Homo sapiens: one gene and its partners. The gene in region 4 interacts genetically with the main gene of each other region. Each region holds a gene or a part of one and is shown on either strand. Other genes may lie near its edges. The genes, in order: RAB2A, SEC24B, TRAPPC13, EP300, IGF2BP1, SLC30A5 and NPRL3.

The links.
Region 1: changes in EP300 (region 4) and RAB2A together harm fitness less than expected from each alone (positive genetic interaction), as found in Homo sapiens cells (one large-scale study listed by BioGRID).
Region 2: changes in EP300 (region 4) and SEC24B together harm fitness less than expected from each alone (positive genetic interaction), as found in Homo sapiens cells (one large-scale study listed by BioGRID).
Region 3: changes in EP300 (region 4) and TRAPPC13 together harm fitness more than expected from each alone (negative genetic interaction), as found in Homo sapiens cells (one large-scale study listed by BioGRID).
Region 5: changes in EP300 (region 4) and IGF2BP1 together harm fitness less than expected from each alone (positive genetic interaction), as found in Homo sapiens cells (one large-scale study listed by BioGRID).
Region 6: changes in EP300 (region 4) and SLC30A5 together harm fitness less than expected from each alone (positive genetic interaction), as found in Homo sapiens cells (one large-scale study listed by BioGRID).
Region 7: changes in EP300 (region 4) and NPRL3 together harm fitness more than expected from each alone (negative genetic interaction), as found in Homo sapiens cells (one large-scale study listed by BioGRID).

Annotation. Positions count from the first base shown.
Region 1 is NC_000008.11:60,593,487-60,596,986, reverse strand, and holds part of RAB2A (ras-related protein Rab-2A), read right to left. Parts: intron 1-3,500.
Region 2 is NC_000004.12:109,538,106-109,541,396, reverse strand, and holds the end of SEC24B (protein transport protein Sec24B), read right to left. Parts: intron 2,905-3,291; coding exon 2,801-2,904; intron 1,837-2,800; coding exon 1,722-1,836; 3' UTR 501-1,721; downstream 1-500. UniProt on the Homo sapiens protein: Component of the coat protein complex II (COPII) which promotes the formation of transport vesicles from the endoplasmic reticulum (ER).
Region 3 is NC_000005.10:65,628,027-65,631,526, reverse strand, and holds part of TRAPPC13 (trafficking protein particle complex subunit 13), read right to left. Parts: intron 2,060-3,500; exon of another isoform or gene 1,940-2,059; coding exon of another isoform or gene 1,187-1,939; exon of another isoform or gene 599-1,186; intron 1-598. Other genes in the region: SHLD3 (shieldin complex subunit 3), read right to left, coding at 1,187-1,939.
Region 4 is NC_000022.11:41,099,092-41,102,591, reverse strand, and holds part of EP300 (histone acetyltransferase p300), read right to left. Parts: intron 1-3,500. UniProt on the Homo sapiens protein: Functions as a histone acetyltransferase and regulates transcription via chromatin remodeling. Acetylates all four core histones in nucleosomes. Histone acetylation gives an epigenetic tag for transcriptional activation.
Region 5 is NC_000017.11:49,038,885-49,042,384, reverse strand, and holds part of IGF2BP1 (insulin-like growth factor 2 mRNA-binding protein 1), read right to left. Parts: intron 2,429-3,500; coding exon 2,294-2,428; intron 1,008-2,293; coding exon 885-1,007; intron 144-884; coding exon 8-143; intron 1-7. UniProt on the Homo sapiens protein: RNA-binding factor that recruits target transcripts to cytoplasmic protein-RNA complexes (mRNPs). This transcript 'caging' into mRNPs allows mRNA transport and transient storage.
Region 6 is NC_000005.10:69,118,014-69,121,513, forward strand, and holds part of SLC30A5 (proton-coupled zinc antiporter SLC30A5), read left to right. Parts: intron 1-485; coding exon 486-615; intron 616-3,500. UniProt on the Homo sapiens protein: Together with SLC30A6 forms a functional proton-coupled zinc ion antiporter mediating zinc entry into the lumen of organelles along the secretory pathway.
Region 7 is NC_000016.10:86,674-90,173, forward strand, and holds part of NPRL3 (GATOR1 complex protein NPRL3), read right to left. Parts: intron 3,230-3,500; coding exon 3,040-3,229; intron 2,218-3,039; coding exon 2,025-2,217; intron 198-2,024; coding exon 32-197; 3' UTR 1-31. UniProt on the Homo sapiens protein: As a component of the GATOR1 complex functions as an inhibitor of the amino acid-sensing branch of the mTORC1 pathway.

The DNA of each region.
Region 1 (3,500 bases), on a different chromosome or scaffold from region 4:
GTAAAAGTGTTCCTATTTCTCTACATCCTCTCCACCATCTGTTGTTTCCTCACTTTTATTTTTTTTGAGACAGAGTCTCACTCTGTCGCCGAGGCTGGAGTGCAATGGTGTGATCTTGGCTCACTGCAAGCTCCGCCTCCTGGGTTCATGCCATTCTCCTGCCTCAGCCTCCCAAGTAGCTGGGACTACAGGCGCCTGCCACCACGCCTGGCTAATTTTTTATATTTTTAATACAGATGGGGTTTCACCCTGTTAGCCAGGATGGTCTCATCTCCTGACCTTGTGATCCGCCCACCTCAGCCTCCCAAAGTGCTGGGATTACAGGCATGAGCCACCGCGCCCGGCCGTTTCCTCACTTTTTAATGATTGCCATTCTAACTGGCATGAGATGGTATCTCATTGTGGTTTTGATTTGCATTTCTCTAATGACCAGTAATAATGAGTTTTCATATGTTTGTTGGCCGCATAAATGTCTTCTTTTGAAAAGTGTCTGTTCATATCCTTCGCCCACTTTTTGATGGGGTTGTTTTTTTCTTGTAAATTTGTTTAAGTTCTTTGTAGATTCTGGATATTAGCCCTTTTGTCAGATGGATAGATTGCAAAATTTTTCTCCCATTCTGTAGGTTGCCTGTTCACTCTGATGATAGTTTCTTTTGGTGTGCAGAAGTTCTTCAGTTTAATTAGATCCCATTTGTCAATTTTGGCTTTTGTTACCATTGCTTTTGGTGTTTTAGTCATGAAGTCTTTGCCCATGCCTATGTCCTGAATGGTATTGTCTAGGTTTTCTTCCAGGGTTTTTATGGTTTTAGGTCTTATGTTTAAATCTCTAATCCATCTTGAGTTAATTTTTGTATAACGTATAAGGAAGAGACTTCTTCTTTTCTATTGTGTGCATTTAATGATATACATTTCCCTCTCGTAACACTGTTTTAGCTATTTTCCACAAATTGGTATGTTGTATTTTCATTCAGTTCAATGTGTTTTTTGTAATTCAAGACTTGCTCACTGACACACAGAAGCGTACTGTTTAGTTTCCAAGTATTTGTAGATTTTCCTATTTTCTGTTAAACTGATTTCTAGTTTAATTCCATTTTGTTTGGAGAATACATTCCGTATGATTTCAATACTTTAAAATCTATTGAGGTTTATTTTATGGCCCAGGACACGGTCTATCTTGGTATATATTCTGTGAGCACCTAAGGGATGCTGAAGTCTCCAACCGTAATTGTGAATTTCTCTATTTCTCCTCGCAGTCTATCAGTTTTTGCTTCACATATCTGGTACACGCATGTTTAGCACTGTCACATCTTTCTGGAGGGCTGATTCTTTTATCATTATATAATGTCCCACTCTGATAATTTTTTTCTGCCCTTAAGTTTATGTGATATTAATATAGCTACTCCTGTTTTCCTTTGATTAATATTTGTATAACTTTTCCTATCATTTTATTTTCAACCTAACTGTACTGTTGTATTTGGAGTGAGTTTCTTATAAATACCATATAGCTAAGTCATTGTTTTTAAAATTCTCTCTGCTAATCCCTTTTGATTTGTGTATTTTGACCACCAACATTTAGTTATTGATATATGAGGGCTTACATCTGACATTTTACTTTGTTTTCTATTTTCCTTCTCCTGCCTTCCTGTGGGCTAATCAAATCCCTTTATTCCCCATGGCTTATAATATTGTGGAATACACTGATAATCACATCAGACAGTGGTTACTTGTTTATACTTCAAACATCAAACATAATTTGCAAGACTTGAAGAAAAAAGTCTATCATATTTATCCATATTTTTGTTTCTTATGTTTTTTTCTTCCTTTATGGTGTTCTAAGATTCTTTCTTCAATCATTTCACTTCTATTAGAAAACTTCCTTTAGCCATTCTTTTATGCAAATCTGCTACTAATAAATTCTTGGTTTTTCCTTCTCTAAGAATGTCTTGATTGCACCTTCATTGCTAATTCTTTTTTTTCTTTGCTGGGTAAAGAATTCTGGGCTGATAGTTCTTTTCTTTCTGCTCTTGCAAAACACTGTGCTACGTATGTTTATTGTGGCAGTATTCACAATAGCAAAGACTTGGAACCAACCCAAATGTCCATCAATGGTAGACTGGATTAAGAAAATGTGGCACATATACACCATGGAATACTATGCAGCCATAAAAAAGTTGAGTTCATGTCCTTTGCAGAGACATGGATGAAGCTGGAAACCATAATTCTCAGCAAACTATCACAAGGACAGAAAACCAAACACCGCATGTTCTCACTCATAGGTGGGAACTGAACAATGAGAACACTTGGACACAGGGCAGGGAACATCACACACCGGGGCCTGTTGGGGGTTGAAGGGCTGGGGGAGGGATAGCATTAGGAGAAATACCCAATGTAAATGATTACTTGGTGGGTGCAGCAAACCAACATGGCACATATATACCTAGGTAACAAACCTGCTCGTTGTGCACATGTAACCTAGAACTTAAAGTATAATAAAAACAAACAAACAAACAAAAATCACTGTGCTATTTTCTCTGTCCTCCATGGTTTCTGATGAGAAATCTGCTATCATTAGAACTGTTTTTCCCCTATACGTAGGGTGCTATTTTTTGCTGCTTTCAAGATTTTTTTTTCTGTCTTTCACGTTCAGAAATTTGACCATACAGAGGTTCGTCATCATGTGGATTTGTCTGGGTTTAACCTCTTTGGGGCTGTCTTCAATCTGTAGGTTTATATACTTTTTGCCACATTTAAGAAGTTTTCAGCCATTATTTCTTTGAGTATTTTTCAGAGCCATTCCTTTTTCCTCTCCTTCTAGGACTTATGATGCATCATATAACGTCAGCTTTTGTTACAGTCCTATAAGTCCCTGAGGTAGTGTTCATTTGTTTCCTCAATTTTCTCTCTGCAGTTTAGACTAAGTAGTTACTATTGTTCTATCATCCAGTTCACTATTTCTTTCCTTTATCTCCATTCTGCTGTTGAGTCCATTCACTAAGTTTTTTTTTCTAGTGTACAAAGAGCTTTGAAAGAGTTTTAAAATTTCAATTATTGTATTTTTTTTTATTTTAAAATTCCTATTTGGTTCTTTTTTTTATCTTGCATTTCTTTTGCTCAGATTGTTTGTTTGCTAAGACTCTTCTGTTTCAAGCATGTTCCTTGTTTGTTGAGGCATTTTAATGATTGCTGCATTAAAATCTTTGTAAGATAATTCAAACACCACTGTCATTTCACTGTTGGCACCTATTATCTTTTTTTCATTCAATTTAAGATCTTCCTGGTTCTAGGTATGATGAATGATTTTCTATTGAAACATGGGTATTTTAGATACTATGTTATGAGACTCTGGGTCTTATTTAAACCACTGTTTAGTTGGCTTCCTCTCACTCCACTCCAACAAGGGAAATGGTGGTGGTAGGGTGCTACTTCATTACTGCCTGGGGATTGTGGAAGCAGAGCCACAATTTTTTCTGTGATGTTTGGCTACAGTAGAATGGTTACTT
Region 2 (3,291 bases), on a different chromosome or scaffold from region 4:
CCCCATGTTGCCCAGGCTGGTCTCGAACCTCTGGGCTCAAGCCATCCGCTTGCTTTGGTCCCTCAAAGTGCTAGGATTATAGGCATGAGCCATCATGCCTGGCAGAGTCTTTTTCCTTCCAAAGTTTGTTGATGGGGACTTTCATAGTGTACAGAATAAAATTATGTCCCATAATCTAATGGATCCTTAAGAGTTTTTTATAGTAAATAAGTTGTTAGTGAATGAGAGGTTTCTTGATCAGAAGAAAATCACTTTCAAAATTCAAGATGGCAATCTTAAAGTCAATTAAATAAATGGGATAGTGATATGTGTTACTAAAATTTTCTTGCTATAAGTGTGCAGGCAAAAATATCTAATGTAAATAAGAAAGACAATTTAAGATTATACTTACTAGTTAAGAATATTTTTGAAAGTAGCACCATTTGTTTTAGAATACAAACAGAATAAGTACTTGGTAATGTCCACAGACTAATGAAAGTGTATTGATTCATATATATTACTTTTTTTTTTTTTTTAAGATGGAGTCTCACTCTGTTGCCCAGGCTGGAGTGCAGTGGCGTGATCTTAGCTCACTGCAACCTCAGCCTCCAGGTTCAAGCGATTCTACTGCTTCAGCCTCCTGAGTAGCTGGGATTACAGGTGCCCGCCAGCACCCCTGGCTAATTTTGGTATTTTTAGCAGAGATGGGGTTTCATCATGTTGGTCAGGCAGGTCATGAACACCTGACCTCAAGTCATCTGCCCACCTTGGCCTCCCAAAGCGCTGGGATTACAGGCGTGAGCCACCGCGCCTGGCCTGATTCATATATATTACTAACTGAAATGCAGTATCACTGCACTTCCCCAATTAGTAAATTCAATACATCCTGTATGTAAAAAAACCCACCAATCCCCACAAAAAACCAATCAAACAAAAACCCCAAAAAATCACCAAACCATACTGTCAAGCGAAATAGTTTTAATTAGTAGGCTGATCATAAATAAATCTACATAAAAGATTTAACAGAATTACAAAGAGTTTTGTGTTCCTTTGTGGACTCAATTCATAATATGCATTAGTCAACCTCATTCTCTAACTGTGACAAAAAGAGTTGTCATCCAACAATGCAGCACAGTTTAAGCAATTCATATGCTATAGTTACATTTTTACATTTTCTTTACAAATGTAACATTTATGTACATTATATATAGATTTTTTTCTATAGTTCATGTACTGAAACTCTATTGTTTTTACAGAGAAAATGTTGAATTCATTTAATGAATAAGAAACATTCCTTGTTAAAAAGTAATTCATATAAACAAATAACACGGTACCAATGCCTTTTGGCATCTCTTGCCAGAGTTCAAGTCCAGAAATGTTATATTAATTATAAGAAAAAAGAATTTATCTAATTTTACATTATGACATATCATTCCACATAGCTACATAAATTTGCCAGCTTGCAATGAACAGAGCACTGTACTGCCATACTACTGGAAATGTGTAGAAACCAATTCAAAATATACTTGGTGAAACAGCATCATCGTTACCATTAATTTGAGTTGAAAAAGATCTGTCAAGTTCTTTCTTCCCCTTTACTTTTTACCAAAGCCTCAGACAGAGTGCTGTGCGTTGCATCTTGTATTAACAAATGCCTTCATTTCAAATTTCTCACGCGCTTCTCTGACAGATTATGCTTTACCTAGGTTATAGATCTTTTTCTTATTCAATTTTATTCTACTTCACTTACAAATCTGCTGCTGAACATGAAGCAAAAATTCATAGTAAGAAAATGCAGCCTCTGTCCGGTCTTCAATCAAATGCTGAAAAAATTCTGCTTTGGCAGGACTCTCATCTCTGGAAGAAAGAAAAGGGCATTTGTCTAAACGTATTTAAAAGCCCTGATTTCACCACTTTGCAATCTAGCTCATAAAATTACACTTGTATCCTGTAAATTTATACAAATAAAATAAAAGTGCATATTTCTAAAAATAGTATATATTTTAAAAATTACTGGGCTGGCAGCTCACACCTGTAATCTCAGCACTTTAAGAGGCTAAGGTGGGAGGACTGCTTGAGCCCAGAAGTTTAAGACCAGCCTGGGCAAGATAGAAAGATCCCCATTGCTTAAAAAAAAAAAAAAAATTTTTAAAATTGGCCGGGCGTGGTGGCTCACGCCTGTAATCCCAGCACTTTGAGAGGCCGAGGTGGGTGGATCACCTGAGGTGAGGAGTTCAAGACCAGCCTGGCCAACATGGTGAAACCCTGTCTCTACTAAAAATACAAAAATTAGCTGGGCGTGGTGGTGGGCGCCTGTAATCCCAGCTACTTGGGAGGCTGAGGCAGGCGAATCGCTTGAATCCAGGACGCAGAGGTTGCAGTGGGCTGAGATCGCACCATCGCACTCCAGCCCGGGTGACAAGAGCGAAACTTTGTCTCAAAAAAAGAAAAAAAAAAAATTAAAAATTAGCCAGGTGTGGAGGGAAGTGCCTGCAGTCCCAGCTACTCGGGAGTCTGAGTTGGGAGGATTACTTGAGCATGGGAGGTCCAGGCTGCAGTGAACTGTGATAGCAGCACCCCTGCACTGCAGCCTGAGTGACAGAGTGAGACTCTATCTCAAATTAAATAAAGAAAGAAAGAAAATTAAAAATTACTAATATATGGAGATGTCAGAAAATGGAATACAGGGGATTTAAATCAAGTAACAACATTTTACCATCAGAATATATTTTGCTACTATTTAAAGTTTGCTTTGAAGACAAGCAATTCCACAGACTACATAGGAAAGACAACTTCATAATTAAGTTACAAAAGTACTTACTTTACTATGTGAAGGATTGGACTTAATGGTCTGCTGTCTCTAAGCCAAGTTATGAAGGATCTGGCTCTTTCTGATGAAAGTGTATCTAGCTCTGGAAGATGTGTCTGGTAAAAGAAATACAATTAGGAAACTTTCCTTTCTCATAGACTTCAGCAGTAATAGAACAAAATCATGATTCCTACCATCACCCCCAACTGCCAGCACTCTATTTCTTAGCCTCAACAGCAGCAACTACACAAATAAAATTTAAACTGTTGAAAAATCTGTTTATATTTTTCTGGATAAGTCAATAAAATATGTGCAATGACAAGTATGTCACTGACATTTTAACTGACTATATTTTTCTTGGTAAGTCAATAAAACATAAACAACGATTAGCATGTCACCAGTATTGTGTGGCGGCTTTATGTTTCTTCTAGAGGAAATGTTCAAATGAAGGGGGATACCATTAAATTCCAAATTCCCTTAGCAATTATATATGATTATATCCT
Region 3 (3,500 bases), on a different chromosome or scaffold from region 4:
GGCAGGGGGTGAGGACTAAAAAACTACCTATTGGGTATTATCCTGATTACATGGGTGACAAAACTATTTGTACACCAAACCCCTGTGGCACACAATTTACCCATATCACAAATCTGCACATGTACCCCTTGAACCTAAAATAAAAGTTAGAAAGAAAAAAAAATTAGTGGGCTTCCATTTTAAGCAACCTCAGCCATCTCAGGCTATGAAGAATCCCTCTGAAGGGAATGTTTACCATGCATTATCAAGCTCCTACCATGACAGGCACTGAGCTTCAAGGTAAACATGTCTATATTCCTAGTTAAGTGCAGTCTTATTTTTCTTAGGGAGCTGGTGTGTTTAATAGTAGTAATGACATGTAAGCTGTGTGAGGGCAAGGTCCATGTCTGTCTCCTTCCCTAGTATATCCTAGCACCTAGTGCAAAGTAGGCATTTAAATATGTTAAACAAACATACATGCTTCTACAAAACTTTTACTGTTTTAATCCCTTTGAGCATTTTTATGAGGTGATGTGTAAAACCAATTACAAGATTATGCTTATGGGGAACCTACAATGACTCCAATCATCAGCCAAGTAATAATTAGCACTAACTATCATTAATACTGAATTATCTGTATTAGAAGAAATAAACAATCATTCAACATTTGATACTTTCCTTCAAAACAGGATACATTATCGTTTTAGGCAAAGTATACATTTTGTATCGTTGTTTGAAAACAGCCTATCAATTGTTATTACATATCTTTGGAAACATCATTATAAATCTAGACTAGTCTCCCACTTTGAACTACATTCATGCCACATAAATAGCACTCCAAAGAGAATTGTTTCGAGTTTTATTTTTTAAAAAATTACACTTGAGGTAAGGAAAAAAATACAGTAAAATTAGATTTTAGAGATTAACCAAAATCCAAACTATACAACTTAATTCATGACTAATTCAATCACAGTTTGTAACAAAAGGAACAGAACATTTTTACCTTCAAATTCAGTGTAAACAATAATTTATCACATTTAAAAGAAGGCTGCCAATAAGCAGAACTCAGCAATTTCTTGACTTAATTGACAAGCCTAGGAATTCTAAAAAGTCATTAAAAATTTTAAAACCTGTAAAAATTATTTTATCTATTTCAATCCATATTCATTTCATTCAGAATATTCTTTTTGACAATCAGTGGAATTCATTACATACTAAAAATAACACCATATTTATGCACAAATAAATTAATTTTTCCAGTAAGAGCTAATCTTCCTTTAAGAAGACTTCCCACATATTCACAATACATAATATCACAGAACACCCATATTTGGCCTAAATGCCTCTGAATTGTAGCATTACAAGATGGAAGTTCATTGTGCCTAATAATTTGATTGAGTTTTGTCCAAATGTCTTCCAGAGTTTGGCTGTTACAAATAGTGTGTTCTATTGTCCATCTTGCTCTATAAAGTGAGTGTAAATTTAGTGCCTTTAAACTATCTTGCAATTTTTTAGACAAAGGAGAAACGTTTTTAGTACAATTATTGCTGGGAAGGGAAATACTCCAAGATCTCCTCTTGTGCTGTTTTCCCTTTTCTGATTGTTTACCCAGATTTCCAGAATTAGTCTGTTCCTTCAGTGTGTGTGACCAGGTTAAATGCTGCTTTTTCAAGCTAGGTTGAAACTCCAATAGATCTACTGTGCAATCATAACTGTGTGACTTAGCATCATGTTCTGAAATGGTTAAGTACTGTTTCACATCTTCAGCTGCCTCTTCAGAAATCACAGGTGGTGATCTTTTAGGTCTGAGTGGAAGCTTGGACCCATCATATGGAAACCAAGGTATAAATCTTGATAGCGGACGAGTAGGAAAGTCTTGAATTGCTTTTTCTGCAATTTTTGGCAGTTGTGTGGGATCACTCTCACATGGTCGATAATGTAATATTACTTCTGTAGTCATTCTGCAGTAATCCAGTTACTCTTAGTGATGAGAAAATTTCTTAGTTGAACTCCTCAGAGCTAGAATGTTAATTTATTATTGCAAGATTGTCTCTCTTGCCAAATCAGAGGGAAACAGGACCTAAAGTAGAAGTATTGCAAAGAATAAGATATGGTAGGGATACCCTGCCTACCAACAGGCAGGGAGAAAAGGAAAAACAAAAAACAAAAACCAATCCCAATGTGGTATTTTACCAAAGTGCTATTGGTAAATGTGAATGTAATCTACAAACCTGAAAATTCTTTCTCTTACCAAAATAAGGGATCTGAACTAGATGCCCTATAAAATCACTTCCTGCCTAAAAACGCTAGTAGTCAACATGTTTAACTCAATAGATATAAAGGACTTGGAAGTATCGATATTAATATATTAAGTAATAATAGTCTTAAAACTTTAGCAGAAACAAAGAGTAAATGAATGATTCTTAAAATATTGTTTTCATATGAATTAACAAAAAATGTAATATTTAAAAATTTGAGGCAACTAAATTGAGGACAATGAAATCACTGTAAATTCTAATCCAACATGGTGAAAACCCATCTCTACTCAAAATACAAAAAAAAATTAGCTGGGTGTGGTGGCGCATGCCTGTAGTCCCAGCTACTAGGGAAGCTGAGGCAGGAGAATAGCTTGAACCTGGGAGCCAGAGGTTGCAGTGAGCCAAGATCATGCCACTCAGCCTGGGCGATAGAGCAAGACTTCATCTCATTAAAAAAAAAAAAAATTCTAATCTGTCTGGAAGAAAATTAATCATTTTATACTTAAAATTATGTAGATTTGCCAGGTGCGGTGGCTCATGCCTGTAATCCCAGAACTTTATGGGGGCCAAGGCGGGCAGATCACGAGGTCAGGAGCTTGAGACCAGCCTGGCCAACATGGTGAAACTCCGGCTCTACTAAAGATACAAAAAATAGCCGGCTGTGGTGGCGTGTGCCTGTAATCCCAGCTACTCAGGAGGCTGAGGGAGGAGAATCGCTTGAACCCGGGAGGTTGAGGTTTGCAGTGAACTGAGATCGCGCCATCGTACTCCCATTGCACTCCAGCCTGGGTGACAGGGCAAGACTCCGTCTCAAAAAAAAAAAAAAAATTATATGGATTCCACCAAACAAATATATAGATAGAATATTTGATGATTTCACGTCATTCTCTGTAGTAAAAACTAAAACCATTAATATGGTTTAACTTTGCTAATATGGTTTAACCAGGCTAAGAACCAGTTTTGTGACACTGTCTTCTCCTCATAATCCAGGCAATTAAACAGTATGGAGACCCCAATACCATGGCTTTTGAATTCCAGTTTGGAAGAGAACAAGAAGTCTAGACTCCTATTTTTTTCTCTTAGAGCACAGAAGTCCTCAAGTTGCCCCAAATTAAGTCACTGATAATAAATTCCAGCATATGGTGCATAGGCTCAAGAATGGAGCCTTCCAATATCTGCAAGTTAGGCTTGCTAATCAGGCCCAAAGCTGTAAGAGCCATAAAACAGACTTTTTCACATCCTAACAACAGCAGAAAAAAATAA
Region 4 (3,500 bases):
TGCCCCATCCATTAAATGGGTAAAATGGAAAGTCTAAATTCCTGTATTATAAGCCCTCCATGATTGGCCCCCTTGCTCACCTCTACAGTCAAGTTTTTGGCTATTCTACCAGTCAGACAGCACTCACAGGTTCCCAGAACAGGATATACCTGGCCTCACACAGTCTCCTTTCTAGCCTGGGCTCATTTTTACTAATCCTATCTCTATCTGTGAGATCCCAAAATCAGACACAATTCCTCAAAGACAGCCACCAGGATAACTACTGGGTTAGGTTCTCCTGTTCCTCCCACTATATACGTACTTCCCAAATACAATGCTGATCACACCAGACTCCGTGAATGCCAGTCTTCTTCCCTTATCTATAAACTCCAGGAAGGAAAGAAGGAACAATGTACAGAGGATAAGTTCCTGGCATACAGAAAATGTTGGCCTAATACAGAATAACTGCCATCTTGTCAACTCTTCTACGCCAGTATTCTTCAAATTATGGCTCAAAAGCCAACAGTGGGTCATAAAAATCAATATAGTAGGCTGCAACCAGTACTAAAAAAAAAAAAAAAAAGAAAAGAAAAAAAAGCAACAGAAAATATGAGAGTATATTACAAGTAATAAGGGTAAGTATTCTTGTGCATTCTTTGAAACAGAGTCTCTAGTGCTACAAGTTAAAGGTAGTTCTTCCTTAAGTGTTGTAAAAAAATTCTTTGGAGCACTGCACTGCTACTTTTCTTCTTCCTCCTTTATAAGAAAGTTTCTTAGAGGCAGGCATAGTGGCTCACATCTGCAATCCCAGCTACTCAGGAGGCCGAAGCAGGAGGATAACTTCAGCCTGGGCAACACAGCAAGACTCCATCTCAAGAAAATTTATTCTTTAAGACCCAGGTGGCTGGGCACGGTGGCTTACCCCTGTAATCCCAGCACTTTGGGAGGCCGAGAAGGGTAGATTATGAAGTCAGCAGATCGAGACCATCCTGCCTAACATGGTGAAACCCCATCTCTACTAAAAATACAAAAAATTAGCCGGGCATGGTGGCGGGTGCCTGTAGTCCCAGCCACTAGGGAGGCTGAGGCAGGAGAATGGCATGAACCCAGGAGGCGGAGCTGGCAGTGAGCCGAGATCGTGTCACTGCACTCTAGCCTGGGTGACAGAGCTAGACTCCGTCTCAAAAAAAAAAAAAAAGATCCATGTAAGAAAATGAAAAATAGAAAAAATTATGCTTAATTGGCCAGGCACTGTGGCTCTCGCCTCTAATACCAGCACTTTGGGAGGCCGAGGTGGGCAGACTGAGGTCAGGAGTTCGAGACCAGCCTGGCCAACACGGTGAAACCCTATCTCTACTAAAAATACAAACATTAGCCAGGCATGGTAGCAGGTGCCTGTAATCCCAGCTACTTGGGAGGTTGAGGCAGGAGAATAGCTTGAACCCAGGAGATGGAGGCTACAGTGAGCCAGGATTGCACCACTGCACTCCTGTCTAGGAAACAGAGTGAGACTCTGTGTCTAAAAAGAAGAAAGAATATGCTTAACACAGTTCTTTATCAAGAAGCCATTCTTAAACATTTCTAACAAGAACAATGTTTTCCATTTTCTCATTATGCCTTAACTATCTGCTGATTTTCATTTCTATTACTTACGTATACAAGACATCTTACATGATAGGATATATAAGATGTCTTGTATACGTGACATGATAATATATATGATATATATATACGTGACATGATACAAGATGTCATGATACTATATATATATGGTTGTCCCTTGGTATCTGCTGGGAATTGGTTCCAGAATCCACTCCCTCCACTGCAGATACCAAAATCTGAGGATGCTCCAGTCCCTGATATAAAGGGGACATGTAGTATTTGCATATAACCTACACACACCCACCCATATACTTTGAATTCTTTCTGGATTATTTACAATACCTAATGCAGTGTAAATGCAACATAAATAGTTGGTGCACTGTATTGTTTAGGGAATAATGACAAGAAAATAAAGTCTGTACATGTCCAGTACAGATGCAACCATGGATTTTTTTCCCCTAAATATTTTCAATCTGTGGCTGACTCCACAAACACGGAACCCTCAGATACGGAAGGCTAACTGTACAGTATTTTTCCATTTTAAGCTCTGTTCCTATATTCTTATACTCCTAGAAAACAACATTTGGATAGATGACATAAGGCTTACTCTTAAGACTCCTCTATGAACATCATGCACTTGGCTTTCTCTTTATCCAGTCTATCTATACAGGAGTTCATCCTTACCCCGTTTCATTTTCTGCCATTTCAAACACCTGTGGTACAAAAATATTACAAAGAAAACTGCAGAAATAAACACTAATTTTTGTTGTTTTAGAAACAGAGTCTTGCTATGTCACCTAGGCTGGAGTGTACAGTGGTGTCATCATAGCTCACTGTAACCTCAAAACTCCTGGGCTCAAGAGATCCTCACACCTTAAGCCTCCCAAGAAGCTAGGACTACAGATGCATGCCACCATGCCTTGCTGACTTTTTAAATTTTTTTTCTAGAGATGGTGGGGGGATGGGGGGTCCCACTACATTGCCCAGGCTGGTCTTGAATGCCTGGCCTCAAGCAATCCTCCTGCCTCAATCTCCCAAAGTGCCAGGATTACAGGCGTGAGCCACAACAATGTTTTAAACTGTGCGCCATTCTGAGTAGCCTGATGAAATCTCACCTGACCGGGTAGTGAATCTCCCCTCCGTCTAATGTATTCACCTGTATAAACTACCAGCCATTTGTCACTTAGTAGCCATCTCAGTTATCAGATTGTCAGACTGACTATGGGGCAGGGCAATGCTTGAGTTTTAAGTAACCCTTATTTTACTTAATGACAGTCCCTAAGTCCAAAAGTAGCAATGACAGCTATATGGATATGCCAAAGAGAAGCTGTAAATTGCTTGAAGGTGAAAGTTCTTGACTTAATAAGGAATGAAAAAAAATTGTATGCGGAGGTTACAAAGATCAAATCTATACATGAAATTGTGAAGGAAAAAAATTCGTGATAGTTTTGCTGTTGTACCTCAAACTGCAAACATCACAGCCACAGTGCATGACAAGTGATTAGTTAAGATGGAAAAGGCATTAAATTTGTGTGTGGAAGACACGGACAGAAACGTGTTCTGACTGATGACAATTATATTCACTACTATACAGGGTTTCAGGTATCCACTGGAGATCTTGGAATGTATCCCGCAAGGATAAGGGGGGACTACTGTATATCCACGAAAAACAAAAACAGGCCGGGCGCGGTGGCTCATGCCTGTAATCCCAACATTTTGGGAGGCCGAGGTGGGTGGATCACGAGGTCAGGACTCCCTGTCTCTACTAAAAATACAAAAATTAGCCGGGCATGGTGCTGCGCAGCTGTAGTCCTAGCTACTCCGGAGGCTGAGCAGGAGAATCGCTTGAAGCCGGGAGACGGAGGTTGTCATAGGCCGAGATCACGCCACTGTACTCCAGCTTGGGCAACAGAGCAAGA
Region 5 (3,500 bases), on a different chromosome or scaffold from region 4:
CACTCACGCTCATGGCAGCCACATCATTCTCATAGGCCTCCCGAACTTTCTTCATTATTTCCTGCTCGGCCCTGCAACAATTCTCGATGGCCCCCTTCACAGTGATGGTCCTCTCAGGGTTGTAAAGGGTAAGGTCTTGCAACCTGGCAGAAAGAGCAGAGTTGTGTCCTTTCACTGGCAGGCCAGGACCAGGCCCCGGCAGTAACAAAGACGAGAGGCCAGCTGAGTCACAGGCCCACCATTTCTGCAGCCTATTCAACTTCTGGCAAATAACTCTGCAACCCCAGTCTTTGGTGTTCCCAGTTTGTAACCAGGGCAGGGGGTAAGATGGAGGGAGATGCCAACACCTAACTCAAACTCCTCTGTTAGCAATGGATCCAATCTCAGATTATGGTTGTGCCTCCAAGTTTCCCCATTGATTCTACATAATCCATGTCCTATACCTTTTTGGACAAGAGCAATTACTTTGCCCACAGGTTAGTCTCTGATGAAACGAAGCACACTGCTTGCAGGAGCAGCCCACCACAGACAGAAAAGGGCCAAGGTCACTTCTCACAGTGACAGACAAGCCTAAAGCCCTGAATCCCTGGCTCCTAGCTGCAGGCTGTCCACGAGCCACAGGGAAAGAGGGCTGTGAAGTGGTTGGACGTGGACTGTAGAGGCAGCACCTTACAACACCCCTGCCCCATATGGCAGTGGGAATGGGCAGATCCAGTCCTTACAGGGATTTTTTAAATGCTCTTTACCACTTCGACTGTTTTTCTTCAAGAGGCAGAAGGAGCACCCATTTTAAAAGAGCACATATCAAGGTTCCATGATGAAATACTGACCCTGGCCCCCATGCATCCCCCACTCATAAACAGGGAAATAGAAGAGAGCCTTACGAGGAGATGGTGATTTTTGTCTCGGTATCTTGCTCTACCTTCTTCAGGTTCCGTCCTTCCTTGCCAATGAGACGCCCTACAAAGTTATTATGGGCCAGGATCTTCAGGGGAACCTCGTCAGCCCTTGGGAAGACAAAGGAAGAAGTGGAAGACAAGAGTTCCTTCAATTGTGGGCTTCATGAAGACTCAATCACCATGCCACCCCAGACTTGGCATTTCCAAGTAAAACATCTCAAAACTTATCAAACTGCATACTTTAAAAATATGTATGATTTATTATACATCAATTGAACATCAATAAAGCCAATTTGTTTTATTTTTTGAGACAGGGTCTCACTCTATCACCCAGGCTGGAATGCAGTGGCACTATCAAGGCTCACCACAGCCTTGACCTCCTGGGCTCATGCGATCCTCCCTTCTCAGCCTTCCGAGTAGCTGGGACTATACGCACAGGCCGCCACGTCCAGCTGATTTTTCTATTTTCTGTAGAGGTGAGGTTTCACTATGTTGCCCAGGCTGGTCTAGAACTCCTAGCCTCCAAAGTGCTGGGATTAGAGGCATGAGCCACCGTGCCCAGCCAATAAAGCTATTTTAAACAGCACAAGTGTGTAAAGGAACATGTGTAAGCAGATTCCTTGCATCACTGTTTTCTGATAAGGAAAAGTTTAAAACAATTTAAACACCCATCAAGAAATAGGAGATTGATTACATGAACTATGAATAGCTATACTGTGGAATTCTATGCAGCTATAAAAATAATGCGGTCTGTCCATATGTACTAATATATGTGCTGATACAGAAAATGAAAAAAGTATAGAACAGCCTGTTCAGTGTGATTCTCTCTGAGCTAAAACACATGTGCATACACGCACAAGTGAATACACACAGGCACACATATCCGTACATGCAGGCACGCAGACACAATATACACACACCTGTGAGTGCACAGAATTTCTAGGAGGTCATACGACAGGAATAAGAAGGGATGGGGTGTGGTGGCACACGCCTGTAATCCCAGCTCTTTGGGAGGCTGAGCTGGGTGGGTCACTTGAGTCCAGGAGTTCAAGACCAGCCTGGGTAACATGGCGACACCCCATCTCTACAAAAATCACAAAAAACTAGGCAGGCGTGGTGGTGCATGCATGTTGTCCTAGCTACTCAGAAGGCTGAGGCGGGAGGATCCCTTGAGATCCAGAGGCAGAGGTTGCAGTGAGCTGAGATCATGCCACTGTACTCCAGCCTAGGTGACAAAGTCCTGTAAGAAGAAAGATTTTATTTCTCAGTTTACATCTTTTTGTGCAATTGCTGACTGTATTTCTTATATGTCTGTATAAAAGCTTGAAAGTTGAGTTGGGGAGGCTCAACTGGACTAGCAGACCCTGAAGATCCAAGAAAAGCTGGAGACTTACGTTTTGGTGTCCTTAGCCTCTTTATGCATAATCTCCAAGATCATCTTACAAGCGGAGGAGCAGCCCTCAGGGGTGGAGTGCACACTGATGGCTTTTTCAGCTGCACCTGCGTTCTCCTTCCTATGCACGTCTATCCTGGGGGCCACAAGGACAAGGCTGGTTAGTTGTCCCCAGTGATACCAGTACTTCAGGCTCCCCACCCCACTACCCCTCCTCAGTCAAAGGCATAGAACCTGCTCTTCTTGAAACAAGGACAATCAAGTACAACTTTGGGAAGGGCAATGAAAGGACTGGAGAAATATGACCCGTCTGTTACTGTGGATTCTGTCTCAGACCAGCAGTGTCTCAATCCACAGGTGGTTGGTGGCCAGGCACGGGAGCTCACGCCTGTAATTCCAGCACTTTTGGAGGCCGAGGCGGGTGGGTTACTTGAGGCCAGGAGTTTGAGACCAGCCTGGCCAGCATGGTGAAACCCCGCCTCTACTAAAAATACAAAAAATTTAGCTGGGTGTGGTGGTGCACACCTGTAATCCCAGCTACTAAGGAGGCTGAGGCACAAGAATTGCTTGAACCTGGGAGGAGGCTGCAGTGAGCTGAGATCACACCACTACACTCCAGCCTGGGTGACGCAGTGAGACTCTGCCTCAAAAAATAAAATAAAAATAAATAAATAAGCAAGCAGTGGTTGGGGACAAGAACACAGCCTATGACACAAATGCAGGGGTGGGAATTACCAGCCCACAGCTCCAAAGCTGCATTTCCGCTTGAATTCCGTATGTCCCCCTTGAAACAAATATAAAGAGAAGACACAGTGCCCCAAACTCAAAGTAAATAACAAGATTTACTATGATAAGGACATAATATGACCTGTTCTTTGCCACTGAGTACACTGATCAGATATAAAGATTAGAGAAAAGGCCGGGTGTGGTAGCTCACGCCTTTAATCCCAGCACTTTGGGAGGCTGAGGCGGCCGGATCACGAGGTCAGGAGTTCGTAACCAGCCTGATCAACATGGTGAAACCCTGTCTCTACTAAAAATACAAAAATTAGCTGGGCATGGTGGCACGCGCCTGTAATCCCAGCTACTCGGGAGGCTGAGGCAGGAGAATTGCTTGAACCCGGGAGGCAGAGGTTGCAGTGAGCTGAGATCGCACCACTGCACTCCAGCCTGGGCAACAGAGCAAAACTCTGTCTCAAAAAAAAAAA
Region 6 (3,500 bases), on a different chromosome or scaffold from region 4:
AAATACAAAAAAAATTAGCCGGGCGTAGTGGCAGGCACCTGTAGTCCCAGCTACTCGGGAGGCTGAAGCAGGAGAATGGTGTGAACCCAGGAGGCGGAGCTTTCAGTGAGCCAAGATCGTGCCACTGCACTCCAGCCTGGGTGACAGAGCAAGACTCTGTCTCAAAAAAAAAAAAAAAAGAGAGTAAAGAAGGACTTTGATGAATATATAACATTTTAACAAATGTATATATTCGTTAAAATGTTATATATTCATATATAACGTATATATATTCATATATAACGTGTATATATATGTGTATATATATATATGTATATATATATGAAGGACCTTCCAGGCATTAATATGATATTTAAAATATTGCTAATTTTCTATTATTAATTACTTAGTAGTATGAAAATTTGGACTTGTTTCCTCATTTATAAAGTTTATACTTTAAAAATATTTGTCCTTTTCCTTTTCTGAAAAATGTTCTATGTTTTTAGGTACGGCCGAATAGAAATTCTGTCTGGATTTATTAATGGACTTTTTCTAATAGTAATAGCGTTTTTTGTGTTTATGGAGTCAGTGGCTAGATTGATTGATCCTCCAGAATTAGACACTCACATGTTAACAGTAAGTCTTTTTATTTTCCTATTTGGATTTCTAGTCATACTTACATAGTTTTTTCTATCCTAAAGTTTAATTGTTTGCAGTTATTGCTCTAAGAAGGTTTTATTTTTTACTTATATCAACATAACTTCCTATCTTGCTGTTTACATTTATACTGCTCCCTCTTAGAAATTCTCTTTTTTTTTTTTTTTTTTTTTGAGACAGAGTCTCTGTTTTCCAGGCTGGAGTGCAGTGGCATGATCTCAGCTCACTGCAGCCTCCACCTCTCAGGCTCAAGCGATTCTCGTGCCTCAGCCTCCTGAGTAGCTGGGATTACAGGCATGTGCCACCACCCCCTGCTAAATTTTGTATATTTTGTATAGATAGAGTTTCGCCATGTTGGCCAGGCTGGTCTCGAACTACTGACCTCAAGCAATCCTCCCACCTTGGCATCCCAAAGTGCTGGGATTACAGGCATGAGCCACTGTGCCCGGCCAGCTATAGCAACTTTTAATGTTCTCCCTGTACCACCAAAGCTTTACATGTGCTGTTTCTTGTAGTTGGCATGTCCTTTCCTTACTTCTGCCCTTCAGCCTCCATCAAGATTTTGCTTATGTGAAATACTTTTTTTCTTTTCTTTTTTTCTTTTTTTTCAAGCAATTCTCCTGTCTCAGCTTCCCGAGTAGCTGGGACTACAGGCGCCTGCCACCACGCCTGCCTAATTTTTGGAAATACTTTCTTTTAATCCCCCTCTTCTCTCCACAAAGTTTGTTAGATTCCTTTTCTCAGTATTCTCATTATGTTTTGTGCATTCTTCTTTTAGCAACATTGAGTTGCAGTTGTTTAATTTGTCATTCTTCCACAATTAAGATATGTAAGTATCTTCAGGACCTGAATTACATATTATTAACTCTTAAGTTCAGTTCTAGCACCTGGCTTGTCGTAGGAAATCAGTTGTTAAATGACAAAAAGCAGCTCTGGCTCTTGCTGGTGGAAGCATACATGAGTAAAATGTTTCTATAATACAGTTTGGAAAAATAGACTTTTTTGGATTTTTTAGTGCCTGTATCCTTTGATATTGACTATTTATCATACATAAACATTCACACAAACATATAGAAGTACATGACTCTGGCCGGGTGCAGTGGCTCACGCCTGTAATCCCAGCACTTTGGGAGGCCGAGGTGGTTGGATCACCTGAGGTCAGGAGTTTGAGACCAGTCTGGTCAACATAGTGAAACCCCATCTCTACTAAAAATACAAAAATTAGCCGGGCATGATGGCGCACACCTGTAATCCCAGCTAGTTGGGAGGCTGAGGCAGGAGAATCACTTCAACCACGAGGCAGAGGCTTCAGTGAGCCCAGGTTGCACCAACTGTACTCCAGCCTGGGTGATAGAGAGACTCTGCCTCAAAAAAAAAAAAAAAAAAAAGTAGTACATGATTCATTGTACCCTTATTTATAATAGTGAAAAAATGGAAACAATTCACTGTCCACCAGTGAAAAAAGTAATTAAATAAATTTGTTATCTATATAATAGAATATTACAGAGCTATTGAAAAGAATGAGATATATCTGTATATACTGGCCTGAAAATATTTACGAGATGTACTAGTGAAAAACAAATTGCAGGCCATGCATGGTGGCGGGCGCCTGTAATCCCAGCTGCTTGGGTGGCTGAGGTAGGAGAATTGCTTGAACCTGGGAGGCAGAGGTTGCAATAAGCCGAGATCATGCCACTGCACTCCAGCCTGGTTGACAGAGCAAAACTCTGTCTCAAAATGAAAAAAAAAAAATTGTAAAATAGTATTATGATTACATTGTTGGTTTTAAAGGGTGTTATGTGTATGTATGTTAGTACACAGATGGAAAATACACCATTTTAAGCGTGACTAACCCTTGGTGGTAGAATTATAGGGGACTTTCATCTTCTACATTTTTATTTTCCTGATAAAATACACAATGATGAAGTATTTTTCAGTAGGGGAGAAGGAGTACTTATGAGATGATGGAGTCTCTGTAAGCAGTACTTGGTTTCATTCAAAGTCATTAACCATCTACCAGCTTATAAAGCCTAATGAAATTTTAAAATCTGGAGTCAAATGGTCCGAATCAGGAAGAAGTAAATAACCTCCCTACACATTTAATAAAGTAAATCTCTTACTACTTTTGAAAAGTAATTAAAAGTATTTGTCCTTCTCATATTTATATTTTCCTTTTATAAAACAAATGGATTGCTTTAAATTGTAGATGTAGGCAAATTAACACCCTGAGCTACTACTATTCAAGATCATTTTGTAAGAGCAGATAATCAAGGATAAGTAACTTTGTTTATCCTTTGGAGTATTATTGTGGCACCATTAAATTAAAGTAATTTCATTCACTTTGTTAAGAAAAAAATGAGAGGCCAGGCATAGTGGCTCATGCCTGTAATCCCATAATCCCAACACTTTTGGAGGCCAAGGTGAGAAGATCGCTTGAGCCCAGGAGTTTGAGGACAGCCTGGGCAACATAGACCCTGTCTCTACCAAAGAAAAAAATTTGTTTTTAATTTAAATAAATGCGAGATTACTATTGTATGTTTCCTTTTTATTATACTTGTTTTACTTTGGAAAATTTTACTGTGTTTAAGACATAATAAGACCATATTTGGAATCTGCTCATTAATAAATTATAATTGTTGGCATATAAACTGTTCAAATTTACCTAGCAATATAAAGATTTCAGGTACAGTGTATACTTGCCCTAGTAAGCAGTACTTTCAAACTCTTCAATAAACAAAACAAAACTTTGCATCATTTATTTATACATAAACCATAAACCAAGTACATACCATTCTTAATTGAAATAAGTCCAAATTCCTCTACTTACCAATTCTGCTTGATATTTGAAAGTTAAAATGTTTCTT
Region 7 (3,500 bases), on a different chromosome or scaffold from region 4:
ACCCCAGCAGCCTTCCGCCCTCCGCCTGGGCTCAGGGGAGCAGAGCCTGGAAGACGGCAATGACAGGGTCCTCGTGGGTGGTCACCACCAGCACGCTGCGGAACTTGTCAAACAGCATGAGCAGCTGGGAGCGCCGCGTGTTCTCGTTGTACATAATCTCCTCCAGGTGGTGGCGGCCGCGGAAGTAGTGAAGGAGCCTGGAAGGGATGGGTGGGTGTGAGCCCAACCTGACACCAGCCCCCAGAGGCCTCTGCTGAAGAGCCACTGCTGGGAATCAGCTCTGAGCTGCCCACAGGCCTGAACAGAGCTGGTGGTGAAGGCCAGGGAGGCAGCCACCACAGCCCCCCAACAAGGGTGGGCAGGCCTCCTGGACCCCATGCCCACCACGGTCCCGCTGACCACCAGGTGGGCGGAGTGGGTTCAGGACGGCAGACGGCTGTTCAAACCCAGAGGTGCCCAAGCCTGCGTCCTGATGTTGGGACCAGGGTTCTGCTGGTGGCTTCTTTTTCGTGCTACAGTGAGTCCCACGTAGCTCTGGAGCCAAATGGTCACTGCTTTTTTTTTTCCTTTTTTTGAGAGACGGAGTCTCACTCAGTCACCCAGGCTAGATTGCAGTGGCTCGATCTCAGCTCACTGCAACCTCCCGCCTCCCAGATTCAAGCGATTCTCCTGCGTCAGCTTCCCAGGTAAGCTGGGACTACAGGAGTGCGCTACCACACCTGGCTAATTTCTCTCTTTTTTAGTAGAGACAGGGTTTCATTATATGTTGGCCAGGCTGGTCTCGAACTCCTGAACTCAGGTGATCCACCCACCTCAGCCTCCCAAAGTGCTGAGATTATAACCGTGAGCCACTGTGCCCAGCCTGCTTTTTTTTTTTTGAGACGGAGTCTCGCTCTGCTGCCCAGGCTGGAGGTGCAGTGGCGCGATCTGGGCTCACTGCAACTCCCGCCTTCCCGCCATTCTCCTCCTCCCGCCAAGCTCCGCCTCCCGCCTTCAGGCCATTCTCCTGCCTCAGCCTCCCCAGTAGCTGGGACTACAGGCGCCCGCCACCACACCCAGCTAATTTTTTGTATTTTTTAGTAGAGACGGGGTTTCACCATGTTAGCCAGGATGATCTCGATCTCCTGACCTCGTGATCCACCCACCTCAGCCTCCCAAAGTGCTGGGATTACAGGCATGAGCCACCGCGCCTGACTTTTTTTTTTTTTTTTTTTAATGTCACCATCATTTGGAAGGTCACTGCTTTAGGGTGCTTTCTGCAACTCAGGCTGGCACAGAGGAGGCTAGGATGCAGGTGAGACCTGGACCAGCTGCTCAGAAGAGTTGCAAGTGGTTCTCTCGAGGGCCGAGTGTGGTTCTCAACCGGAAACTCAGTCCCTGACAACCCGACCACTCCCGGGAAACTATGCCCCTGCACTGTCCCCCAAGTCAGGGTGGGGCTGACAGAGACCACTGAGCCACATCACCTTTAACATGGGGGACCCTGGATGCCCGCAGGGCTTACAGTCCTGGGCAAACCCCTGCCAAGTCCCATGAGGGTGAGAACTTGGCACTTAAATTAGCCGGGCGTGGTGGCGGGCGCCTGTAGTCCCAGCTACTCAGGAGGCTGAGGCAGGAGAATGGCGTGAACCCGGGAAGCGGAGCTTGCAGTGAGCCGAGATTGCGCCACTGCAGTCCGCAGTCCGGCCTGGGTGACAGAGCGAGACTCCGTCTCAAAAAAAAAAAAAAAAAAAAAGAACTTGGCACTGCCTCTCAAGGGAAAAGGAACATCTAAGAAGTACTGGAGAGAGAAGAGTCCGAAAAATAGGCATGCCAGGCCCATGGCCCGGCGTCTTGGTGACAAGCCGAACCCTCAGGCCTGGGCAGTGGCACCTGCCCCTACACACCTGAATGCAGAGACTCCATCTCGAACAGGGCCCCATCTGTTCTCAGTGGATTTGGTGGTTCTGTTGCGTACGTCCCTATCCACTTTCTGCCCTGACCCTGCAACTGGCCCCAGTCCCAACGGGTCAACCTACACCCACCTGGCAAACATGCGGAGGTCCTCAGGGTTCTGGGCTGCGGGTACACTGAGGATGGCTGCGCGTTCATGCTCCGACAGGCTGGCCAGCAGGTTCTCCGTCATCCTCTGGTTCAGTGGCGAGTCCCCGCTGGGAAGTAGCTCTGCGCTGGAGTTGTCCATGCTGGGGCTGGTGAGGGTCATGTCATCGCTGCTGGCTGTGGGGGACATGGGTCAGGGTGACCAAGTGGAATTCCAGGACACCCAGGGGAACAGCGAGGGCAGAGCCAGCAGCCAGCCTCCAATGACACCCCTAACTCCTACAAGGGTTAGGGTACATCTGCCTGCAAGCATTCGCTGCTGCCCCACCTCCTGGGTGTGACACGCCCCTCATACGGCTGACTTGGGAAACGGGTAGCCTCCCCTCTGGGGGCAACCTCAAGGGACCTGAACAGAGGTGCGATGTGTGCCCCACAAACACCCCAAGGTGGGCCTGGGCATCCTGTCCCTCACCCAGGATGGAGGACAAAGCACCCTGGGCAGGTGGGGTCCTCACATGAAGCATGAAGCCTACAGCCAGACCTCAGCCAAGGGGGGACTTTCAAAGTCTTCCACCCCCTTCCTTCCCCAAGCCTGGGGACCGGGGACCTGGGACCTGGCAACAGGCTGCTGCCCTCAAGCCACACTGGCCATGACGGCTCTTCTGGGGCGCAGAGGTGTCAGCTGTCCTGGTAGTGGTATGAGATCCTGCTCTGCTCCCAGGCTGGGGCAGAGATTCCAGCACTGATTTGCTGGGCTGGGAGCTGCCCCTAATTCTAGCAAGCCTGCTGAAGAGCCCGGAGACAGAGCTGCCACCTCAGAGTCACGGTGGTGCTAGGAGACAGGAGAGGTGTCTCCACGGGGGACACGAGGCACGTGCATGTGCGTGTGCAGCTGTGTGGAGGCCCCTCATCACTCACAGCACCACCCACGTTGAGCCTCCTGGATGCCACCCCCAAGCGTCTCCCCTGACTACCACAGCGGTGCCCTGGGGGTCCTACTTGGGGAGCCAAAGCTGAGGGCGTTGGGCGTGCTGAGGCTGCGACCGCCGACCCGGGCAGTGAAGGGGACGTCGTCCTCTCGCGGACGGGGCTCCTCCTCGCTGGGTGAGGCCATCAGGCAGACATAGGTGTGCAGCTGGATGAGAAGCCGGCGCTGCAGCATCCACACCACCATCTGGATGAGCTGGGTCTGCGGGTGGCAGCAGGTGAGGCTGGTCCCCCTCCCCACTCCAACTTCCTCCTGGGTGATCAGGGAGCCATGGCCCTAGACATGGCCACAGCACGCTCCCTGTGCTGACGCACAGGCAGAAAGGCCCTCTTCTCAGAAAGGGAGCCCCCAGCTGCCAGCCAGCTCTGCAAGGCCCGCTCACCCTCCTGGGAAGGGAGAGGGGCCAGGGGAACATCTGGATCACACCTGCACAGGCTCCCACCACACACCGGGGCCACCCAGCATCTGGCTG